Linked DNA regions of Homo sapiens: region 1 is linked to region 2. Evidence: fine-mapped expression QTL. A gene starts in region 2. The other region holds a variant in brackets. All regions are shown on one strand. Distances are between the middles of the regions.

Region 1 (5,378 bases), 86 kb after region 2:
ATCCTGTGACTGCGGTGGTGCACGCCTGTAATCCTAGCTACTCAGGAGGCTGAGGCGGGGGGATCACTTGAGCTCAGGTGTTTGAGGCCAGCCTGGGCAACACAGAAGACCCTATCTCTTAAAAAAATAAAAGAATCCCATGCCAAAAACTCCAGTCCTCAGCCAACATATTACTCATTAACTTTATCTCACAATATGCCCCAGGAGTCTCAAAAGTAACATTACCATCAACAAAGTGATTTCTGAAAATAGCTACTTTTTTACTTTTACAATTCTTTTTTGTCCTTGGAGACTCTCATGATGGATTTCAAAGTCATTTGGAACGTTTCCACTCTGAATTTTCTGCATGGAGTCAGGACAGAGGTTCGTTTGTTTCATCATCTTCAGATTTTTAGGGAGTGCCTTTTTTGTTGTTAGTTTTGTTTTGTAATAAAATATATTTCTTATTTCTCTACCTGTGAAATGAAAAAAATCTCAAAAGAATGGTCAGAAGTCTGACTTCTTTCTTCTATCTCATTCACCCTAATCCTTTACTTCTTCATGGGTTACTATTTAAACAGTTTTATAATTTATCATTCCTTTATTTGTATTTATATTTTTGAGCCAGGGTCTTGCTCCGTTGCCCAGGCTGGAGTGCTGTGGCACGATGTCGGCTCACTGCAGGCCCTGCCTCCTGGGTTCAAGCTATTATTCTCCTGCCTCAGTCTTCCGAGCAGCTGGGATTACAGGTGTATGCCTCCATGCCCGGCTCTTTTTTTTTTTTTCGTATTTTTAGTAGAGATGGGGTTTCACCATGTTGGCCAGGCTGGTCTGGAACTACTGACCTCAAGTGATCTGCCTGCCTTGGCCTCCAAAAGTGCTGGGATTGCAGGCATGAGCCACCGTGCCTGACCCATTTTTTCAAATTCAAAGAAATACACGTATGTATTTATAATCATTCCTTCTTAAATAGGTAGCATTCTGCAATAGTTTTCTTCCCCTTGCTATTTTTACTTTTTTTTTTTTTTTTTTTTTTTTGAGACGGAGTCTTGCTCTGTCACCCAGGTTGGAGTCCAGTGGCGTGATCTCGGCTCACTGCAACCTCCGACTCCCTGGTTCGAGCAATTCTCCTGCCTCAGCCTGCCGAGTAGCTGGGATTATAGACACGTGCCACCATGCCCAACTAATTTTTATATTTTTAGTAGAGATGGGGTTTCACCATGTTGGCCAGGCTAGTCTTGATCTCCTGACCTTGTGATCTACCTGCCTCAGCCTCCCAAAGTGCTGGGATTACAGGCGTGAGCCATGGCACCCGGCTGCTATTTTTACTTTTTACTGTTTTTACGTACTCCTGGGGGTGATTTCAGGACATTTTAAACAACGACCTGTCAGATTAAGATGAAAGAAATGGGCTGGGTGTGGTGATGTGCACCTGTAGTTGCAGCTACTTGGGAGGCTGAAGTGAGAGAATCACCTGCGCACAGGAGTTCAAGGCCAGCCTGGGCAACATTGTAACTCCCTATCTCTTTTAAAAAACAGACGGCCACTGCACTGGGGTCTCCTCTCTGCCCTGTCCCCTTTCCACTTGAGGTTTTTCTAGAAGCTGCTTTGCCAAAACAAAGAGGTTGTGGCTTCGTGCGCACCAGATTTCTCTGTAGAATGGCTCTTCTCTTCCTGCAAATACTAGAGAGAATTTAATGATTTCATTCAGCCTGTGGCTTTTTTTTTTTTTTTTTGCCTTAGCCATAATTAACGGAGACATAACATGCTACACTGATCTGTGTCAAGCTACACCACATGTGAAAGTTTCTTGGCTGATGGCATCATTGAGATTTAGAAATTAAAGTGAAGATTCAAATTTGTACCAGTCTGGGCGACATGGCAGAACCCCATCTCTACAAAAAATACAAAAATTAGCTAGGCATGGTGGCACACACCTATAGTCCCTGCTACTCAGAAGACTGAGGTGGGAGGATCACTTGAGCCTAGGAGGTGGAGGCTGCACTGAGCCGTAATTGCGCCACTGCACTCCAGCCTGGGTGCCAGAGCATGACCCTGTCTCAAAAAAAAAAAGACAAGAAAAGAAATTTGTAGACCACCCTGCTACGTAGCATATTTTAAAATTTAAGAACTGGTTTTTTGTTTGTTTGTTTGTTTGTGCCTGATTGATGGCTTCTGTGATCTAATGTGTTTTTAACGCTTGCAGTTCCTCTCTTATTGATGATCATTCCTTGACTACTTGGAATTCAAAAGATATAAAACCTGTGGTCTCTGCAGACCTACGACTGCTCACCAGGCTTCTCTCACATTGTAATTCCAGCAGTGCATCTTCAAATCCAAAATCAGCTGTAAATTCACCTAGTTCTTTGCATTAAACTGGATTAATCATTGTAAATGATTGGTTTTGGGGTAGACTTTAAAATGTTGAATTATTTATGTACGCCTTGCCTGCTAAACTAGATTATGACAGTTTGAGTGTAGCACTCTTCATTTAAAATATTTGTGTTTTGCAATTATAAGGATATTAGCAAAATAAGATCATTTCAATTGGGGAAAAACTGACAGCTTCTATGTACTAGTGTTTGCAGCAAAATGTAAAAATTGCCTACGACCAGAGAGCTGTGGTGTTGAATTTAACTATTAATTTCTTAGAACTTGATCCTATATTTTACTGTGACCCTGCCCACGAGGA[C/A]TTTTCATGATAAATAAGAGGGGACTGAACAACTGCTGTGAGCCATACTTCAGTTAATCTTTCATCATTTAAAAGCCTTGCCTGAGAACTCCTGGAGTATGAATTATCTGTCTTTTTTTTTTTTTTTGAGACGGAGTCTCGCTCTGTCACCGAGGCTGGAGTGCAGTGGCGCGATCTCTGCTCGCTGCAAGGTCCGCCTCCCGGGTTCACGCCATTCTCCCACCTCAGCCTCCCAAGTAGCTGGGACTACAGGCGTGTGCCGCCACGCCTGGCTAATTTTTTGTATTTTTAGTAGAGATGGGATTTCACCATATTGTCCAGGATGGTCTCAATCTCCCGACCTTGTGATCCACCCACCTCAGCCTCCCAAAATGCTGGGATTACAGGCGTGAGCCACTGCGCCTGGCCTGTCTGTCTCTTAATGTCTAGTTTCTATAGTAGAGCAAAGCCAAATTGAAGACCGTCCTGAGATGATGTGTGTGCATGTGTGTGCTAGAGCAGTTCATTAGAAATCTTCCGAATGCAGCTGGCGCAGTGGCTCAGGCCTGGAGTCCGAACACTTTGGGAGGCTGAGGCAGATGGAGAGCTTCAGCCTATGAGTTCCAGACCAGCCTGGGCAATCAATATAGCAAGACCCTTCTCTATTTAAAAAATAAAAATAAGGCCGGGCGCGGTGGCTCACGCCTGTAATCCCAGCACTTTGGGAGGCCGAGGCGGGCGGATCACGAGGTCAGGAGATCGAGACCATCCCGGCTAAAACGGTGAAACCCCGTCTCTACTAAAAATACAAAAAATTAGCCGGGCGTAGTGGCGGGCGCCTGTAGTCCCAGCTACTTGGGAGGCTGAGGCAGGAGAATGGCGTGAACCCGGGAGGCGGAGCTTGCAGTGAGCCGAGATCCCGCCACTGCACTCCAGCCTGGGCGACAGAGCGAGACTCCGTCTCAAAAAAAAAAATAAAATAATAAAATAAAATAAAATAAAATAAAAGGAAAATTTTTTAAAAAATCTTCAGGAATATCAAGTTTGTTGACTGACCATTGTATATGGGAAAGTTGGGTCAGGATGCAGGTGAAGGAGCCATATTTGAGAGAGGGAAGTTTTCATTTTAGTCCTGAGATAACTGGGTAATAAGTTGTCGATTTTGTGATTTCTGACTTCCTCAGAACTCTGAAAGTATCCCTGATAGAGTTCTTGTCAGGTTGGTAAAGATGTATTTTCTTATTTTAATCTCTAGAAATGATGAAGCCCGTCCTTACTTTTGGAGAAAGAGTGTCGCAGGTCAGCTTTAGCATAATGAGAAACAGCAATATCCTGACTTTACTGGTCAGAATTTGTGAGCAAAATGATCACTCCTTCTGTGAGAAGAGATGGGAAGTGCTGCCCTTTTAGCCATGCTTGTAGGTGACCTTTGCTGTACAGGGCGGGCTGGCAGGGAGGGCCAGGTTGCAGTGAGCTCTCCATGGTCATGGCCTTTGATGTTGGGACGGGGAATGGGGAGTCTGATTCTCCACCCCCATCATCCTCCCACACACCGGCTTAATACGCTTCTTCCCCAGCTTAATACGCTTATTGTAAGCTCCTTACTGCAAAGCGTTAGGCTCTCAGTAGACTAGAAATTATGTTTCTCATGCAGGATGATTGAGTAATAACAATATGACTGTCTTAATGTCAATATGAATTTGTCTCATCTTGTCTGAAACATAATTGAACAAGTTCAGGTTCAGACAGGTCTTAGAGTCCACTATTCATTTCTCAAGAGCAGGTTCTTCAAACACACACACACACACACACACACACACACACACACACACACCCTTTGTTTTTTATCCTTCCCTAACAGTTTCCTAGTATAGAATAAACTGGTTAGGTTGTTGTGTATGTATGCAGTGTGAGGCCGCTGGTTAGTTCTTATTAGAAGACGTCCCCCAGTAATCAGAACCTGTGGTGTCTGCATGTGTGCGTGTGCGCTGTCAGTGTGGCCAGGTACGACTGGAATGATCAGTAGCAGTCGTCAGATTCCTTTTAGCAGAAAAAGATCTTCAAACCTGACTTGGTGTTTTTTCTTTTTTATCCTTTTTGTTGTTGTTGTTTTTGAGACACAGTCTCCTTCTGTCTCCAGGCTGGAGTGCAGTGGCGCAATCTCATCTCACTGCAACCTGCACCTCCTGGGTTCAAGTGATTCTCCTGCCTCAGCCTCCCGAGTAGCTGGAATTACAGGCGCGGCCACCACACCCGGCTAATTTTTGTATTTTTACTAGAGATGGGGTTTCACCATGTTGGCCAGGCTGGTCTCAAACTCCTGAGCTCAATCCATCCGGCCGCCTCGGCCTCCGAAAGTGCTGGGATTACAGGCATAAGCCACCACACCCAGCCTAAAGTTTCTACTTTAAAGAAAGAAATTCTCAGGCTGGACACGGTGGCTCACACTTGTAATCCCAGCACTTTGAGAGGCCGAGGTGGGTGGATCACGAGGTCAAGAGATCGAGACCATCCTGGCCAACATGGTGAAACCCCGTCTCTACTAAAAATACAAAAATTGGCTGGGCTTGGTGACGTAGTCCCAGGTACTTGGGAGGCTGAGGCAGGAGAATCGCTTGAAACCGGAGGTGGAGGTTGCAGTGAGCCGAGATGGCGCCATTGCACTCCAGTGACAGAGTGAGATTCCATCTCAAAAATAAATAAATGAATAAATAAATTTTCAATACAG
Region 2 (5,378 bases):
AGATATAGAGGTTTAGTAGTAAGGTTACCCAAATTTGATGGTGCTTGGCTGTGAGTGGTGAGATTTTAGATAATTTTTGTCTTTCTGATATCTTTATGTATTATTTAAATTATTTAAAAATTTTCAGTTATTAAAATGTTTTATCTTTATGGAATACTTAAAAAAAACTGACCAGAGAAGTTATAAGGAACAATATTATTATTATTAGGAACTCACTATATACTAGACATTCTGCTGTTTTATATGCATTATCTGATTTAATTCTCACAACCCCATGAGATTATTATCCTATTTTGTAATATTGAGCAAACTAAGCCTTCAAGTGTTTAAGCAAATTGCCCATACTCACAGGGTTAGTAAATGGTGGGGGCAGGATTAAAGGCCAGGTTTCCCAGCTGCAGTGCTACTAGGGTCTCTCTGGCCCGACCTACAGGTAAACTGGGTTGCTCTTTGGAGCTAACAGAAAGTTACCAATATCTTAAATACAATCACTTCAACCCCACCAGTCCTATCTCCGAGGCCATCTTTTCTTTTACCTTTCCAGCAGCATGCACTAAATAAAATGCCATAACTAGTATCAAAGCCACTACCAACCAAAGATGGAAAACTTTCTGTGGTAATATGTTACATTGGTTGCTGAAATGAACCATGCCTTCCAGTATTGGAAGGGACCCTGGCATAGTCCCCTCCCCTTGAATTGGGGCTAGCCCTTCTACTTGCTTTAACCAAGAATATAGCCAAGGTGCTAGTTCTGCACCTACGCTTTAAGAAGGCCTGGCAGCTTCCACTTTTGCCCTTTTGGGAGCCCCGAGCCAACATGTAAGAAGTATTCTGGCGGGGCACGATGGCTCATGCCTGTAATCTCAGTACTTTGGGAGGCCGAGGCGGGTGGATCATCTGAGGTCAGGAGTTTGAGACCAGCCTGGCCAACAGGATGAAACCCCGTCTCTACTAAAAATACAAAAAATTAGCTGGGCATGGTGGCGGGCGCCTGTAATCTCAGCTACTCAGCTACTTGGGAGGCTGAGGCAAGAAAATCGCTTGAACCCAGGAGGCAGAGGTTGCATGCAGTGAGCCGAGATGGCGCCATTGCACTCCAGCCTGGGCAATAAGAAACTCCATCTCGGGGGAAAAAAAAAATGTCATCCTACTCTGCTAGACAAATTACATGGAAAGGCCACGTGGACAGGGAGAGAACTTGGACTACAGGGAGAGAGACCCAGTTCTTTCAGCGGAACCAGCCCCCACTTGTTGCTATGACCACTGGCAAGACCAGCAGAACGGGTGGGCTAATCCCAGCCCAGATTGCAGAACTGTGAGCAAGTAAAATGGTGGTTGTTTTAAGTCTTACGTTTTGGGGCGGTTTGTTACACAACAGATTATGAAAACACCTCCTCAGCTTTCCTTGGGTGACTACTGGTACTCACTTGTGTATAAGTCTCCATTCCTTAATCCTTACTATCTCCCAATTTTATGGTAATAGTTTGCCAGAAGCGTTCACATTAACGACGAGGACGTAGGCAGGCCCCCCCTTTTTTTTTTTTTTTTGAGACAGAGTCTTGCTCTTTCGCTCAGGCTGGAGTGCAGTGGTGCGATCTTGGCTCACTGCAACCTCCGCTTCCCGGATTCAAGCGATTCTCCTGCCTCAGCCTCCCGAGTAGCTGGGATTACAGGCGCCCGCCACCACGCCCGGCTAATTTTTGTATTTTTAGTAGAGACGGGGTTTCACCATGTTGTCCAGGCTGGTCTTGAACTCCTGACCTCAGGTGATCTGCCCGCCTCAGCCTCCCAAAGTGCTGGGATTACAAGCGTGAGCCGCCGCGTCCGGCCGGATCCTCAGTTCTTTCGCTGTAAACGAGAGTACTCTTCCCCAACCCACAGGCTTATATCTCTTACAATTCAGTGAGTGAGACATCGGCTGAGGACACACCTGTTGCACAAAAAGGGCTCACTGCACGCCATCACACCCAAGTCTCGTACCCTCATCTTCATAACCTGCCCAATCCCAGTGAGTGTGAGAGGTAAGTCTGCAGCAGGGCCCGGAAAACTTGTTTCTTTTTCTTTTAAATAAGTTTTCTCGCGAATTCGAACGCATGTCCTCCTCCTGCCATACCTCAAAGGACTCCGCTCGTCACCACGCCCCCGCGCCTTCTGTTAGGAGCAGCAAACCCCAGGTGTCGCGAGGGTTTCTTCTTTCTTCAAGATCAGCCACAGGTCGCGCGAGAGGGATGTGTCCAATCACGAGGCTAGATGGCTTCACAAGATGGCGGCGCGCTGGGAGCGTATCATCTGCGTTTCTAGGAGCTTCGCTATGCGGCTGCTTTAAGATTCTAGGGTTGTACAGGCCCACGCCAGACACGACGTCTGGCAGGAACCTCGGCCTCAGAGGTGGGTCACTTATATCTCTCACGCAGATTTACTATCATGGGTCACTTAACCCGTGGATCACACGGGTTCCTCATTCTTGAGTTTTGGGCTAGTGAGGTGCCGACTTCGGGGTCTAGGAGGGGAGACCTGATGTGGCTGTGTGTGCGCACGCGGGGGTGTTGAGAGTGGATGAGTGGGAGGAGTTGGCGAATAGAATAGAGACTAGGACTGAAGTAGGAAAGACTCCCCGGTGTTTAGGAGGTTTAGAGAGATCCAAAACTGAGGCGGGAAGACAAACTGAGCTGATAAAATGAGGGCATGGAAAGAACGGCAGTGGCAGGACTAGTGGGAAACGTCGGATTTATGAGAGAAGGCGAAGAGAGAAGATGTAGATTGGTGTGGAAGTGGGAGGGATCTGTGCAGAAAGAATTTGAAGTTCTGAAATTGGAATTTAGACTGTTTTACAGGCTGTGTATCAAGAGAGTGGTAGTTGAAGAGGGTTAATGGTCAAGAGGAACCAAGGAAACAGAAGCATGGAGATGAGAAAGAAAAAAAAAAAAAGGGAAAGCCTCATTCTCAGGGTTCTACTATTAACTGTGGCTTTCTGGACTGACTCAAGTAACCGGGAAGAAAAGTTCCAGTCCATGGGCTGAGCTTTTTTTGAAACTCAGTGAGGGTGCTTTGTGTCGGTGGTCCAGACAGGGAAGAGTTCTATCGTGGTTTCAATCAACAAATACTTGAGTGCCTACTCTCTTAGGCCCTATTTTAGGCGTTGGGATATGCGGTGAACAAGACAGACAAAATATTTACCCTCTTGAAACTTACTGACGGGAGATTTTTTAAAGTAAGTAAAATATATGGAATGCCAGATGGGTAAATTCTGTGTAGAAAATTGAAGCTAGAGCCTGGGTAGCAAAGCCAGACTCCCTTTCTACAAAAAATGAAGTAAATTAACCAGGTGCAGTGCTCTGTACCTGTAGTCCCAGCTGCTTGGGAGGCTCAGGCGGGAGGATTGCTTGATCTCAGGAGTTGGAGGCTGCAGGGAGCTATGATTCCATCATTGCACTCTGGGCAACAGAATGGAAGACCTTGTCTCAACAAGAAGAAAAAAAAAAGAATTGATGCCCAGTTAAACTCTGAAGAATAGGTTATATTTAGCTAAGAACTCATTGCCTATATTGGGAGGTTAGTTAGAAAAGAAGTGGTTGTATTTACTCATTCTGTATCTGTTCTGACCAGAAAAGTTGAATAATGTAGGAAATGAATCGAATCTGCCATGTCTGTAATTTAATTTGTTTCACATATATTCAGAGTATTATGTTGTGTGTGCACTGATGTCAGCTATGTAGTCTGTAGAATTTTCCTTAATGTGTGGCAGAGCCCTAACATGCCACTGTCTCTTGAAGTCACTGTTAGGATATGGTGACTAAAGTCAGCAACAATGTATATTTCAAAATAGCTAGGAGAGGGCTTGAAATGTTACCAATACATAGATATAAAAAATACTCAAAGTGGTGAATACCCCATATACTCTGACTTGATCAGCACACATTCTATGCGTGGAACAAATACCGCATAAATGTCACATGTCCCCCATAAATTGGGAAAATATTTTCCATCAGTTTAAAGAAATTACTCTTAGTTTACTTTTTTTTGTTGCTTGCCAGAATCACAAGAAAGAACATTTTCTTTTTCTTTTTTTTTTTTGAGACAGTTTCACTGTCACCAAGGCTGGAGTGCAGTAGCACGATCTTGGCTCACTGCAACCTCCACCTCCTGGGTTCAAGTGATTCTCCTGCCTCAGCCTCCCGAGTAGCTGGGATTACAGGCACCCACCACCACGCCCAGCTAATTTTTTTTTTTTTTTTGAGACGGAGTGTTGCTCTGTCACCAGGCTGGAGTGCAGTGGCGTGATCTTGGCTCACTGCAACTTCGGCCTCCTGAATTCAAGTGATTCTCCTGCCTCAGCCTCCCAAGTAGCTGGGACTTCAGGCACATGCCACCACACCCAGCTAATTTTTGTATTTTTAGTAGAGATAGGGTTTCACTATGTTGGCCAGGATGGTCTCCATGTTGGCCAGGCTGGTCTCACAAACTCCTGACCTCAGGTGATCCTCCAGTCTTGGCCTCCGAAAGTGTTGGGATTATAGTCGTGAGCGACTGTGCCCGGCCAACACTTTAATTTTGGATATTTTCTTTTTAATAAAGTCTATTATTTGTATTTGTTTATTTTGAGACAGGGTCTCACTGTGTGGCCCAGGCTGGACTGGAACTCCTGGGCTCAAGCTATCCTTGGCATCCCTAGTAGCTAGGAACACAGGCATGCACCACCTTGCCCAGTTGATGTTTTCTTGAGAACTGGGGGCCATCCTAGTTTTATGCTCCCCTCTTTCCTGATGGTCAGTAAAGGGTATGTCAATGCTAGGAAATTAAGACAGGTATATAGTCATTTTTAGTCATAGTGTGAGGGGCAAAATGTAGTAACAGTATGCTGAAAAACTTTCAGGTGACTACTAATCCCCTCAAATTCTGAATTGTTTACTCAAAAAATATTTATTGTATACAGGTTGCTGGGGGTATAGTAAAGACTAGGATGGATATGGTTGCAGGTCTATGTGTGACATATGCAAATTAATTACACACCCAGTAGTAAACTGAAGATCTCTGAGGGAGAAGCAGCACAGGGTGCTTTGAAAGCGTGTAGATGGGCATCTGATTGGATTGTGGGGTCAGAGAAAGGCTGCCTGAGTAAATGATGCCTAGGGTGTGATTTGAGTAGCTAGTGGACCTTCAGAGGTGAAAGGCGATGGTGGGAGGTTGAGGAGAGTCTTACAGGCAGTAAGAATAGGAGATGGTGAGACAGACTACCATGCAGCAGAGAAAATGGAAGAAGACCAGTATGTCTGGAAGGGGAAAGTGGCAACAAATGAAGTTGGAGGGACAGATAAGGCCTGGATTATGCCTGCCTTTTTAATGATTTTAGACTTTTTTAGCTTAATAGCTTTGGGATG

Evidence for each region. PIP is the estimated chance that this variant, and not a neighbour inherited with it, causes the effect. A credible set is the group of variants that fine-mapping cannot tell apart.
Region 1: its variant is the best candidate, but not a certain one, in a credible set for the expression of METTL16 in subcutaneous fat (GTEx, PIP 0.79).

Annotation. Positions count from the first base shown.
Region 1 is chr17:2,422,368-2,427,745 of GRCh38, reverse strand. The region is part of intron 8 of METTL16 (methyltransferase 16, RNA N6-adenosine); the gene reads left to right. Among named protein-coding and RNA genes, the nearest start is that of MNT, 24 kb to the right of the region's middle. The variant C/A (reference allele first, on the strand shown) is at 2,672.
Region 2 is chr17:2,508,769-2,514,146 of GRCh38, reverse strand. METTL16 (methyltransferase 16, RNA N6-adenosine) reads left to right here and starts at 2,259. Exons shown (of 10, transcript NM_024086.4): 1 at 2,259-2,388. RefSeq lists enhancers at 2,059-2,108, 2,179-2,388.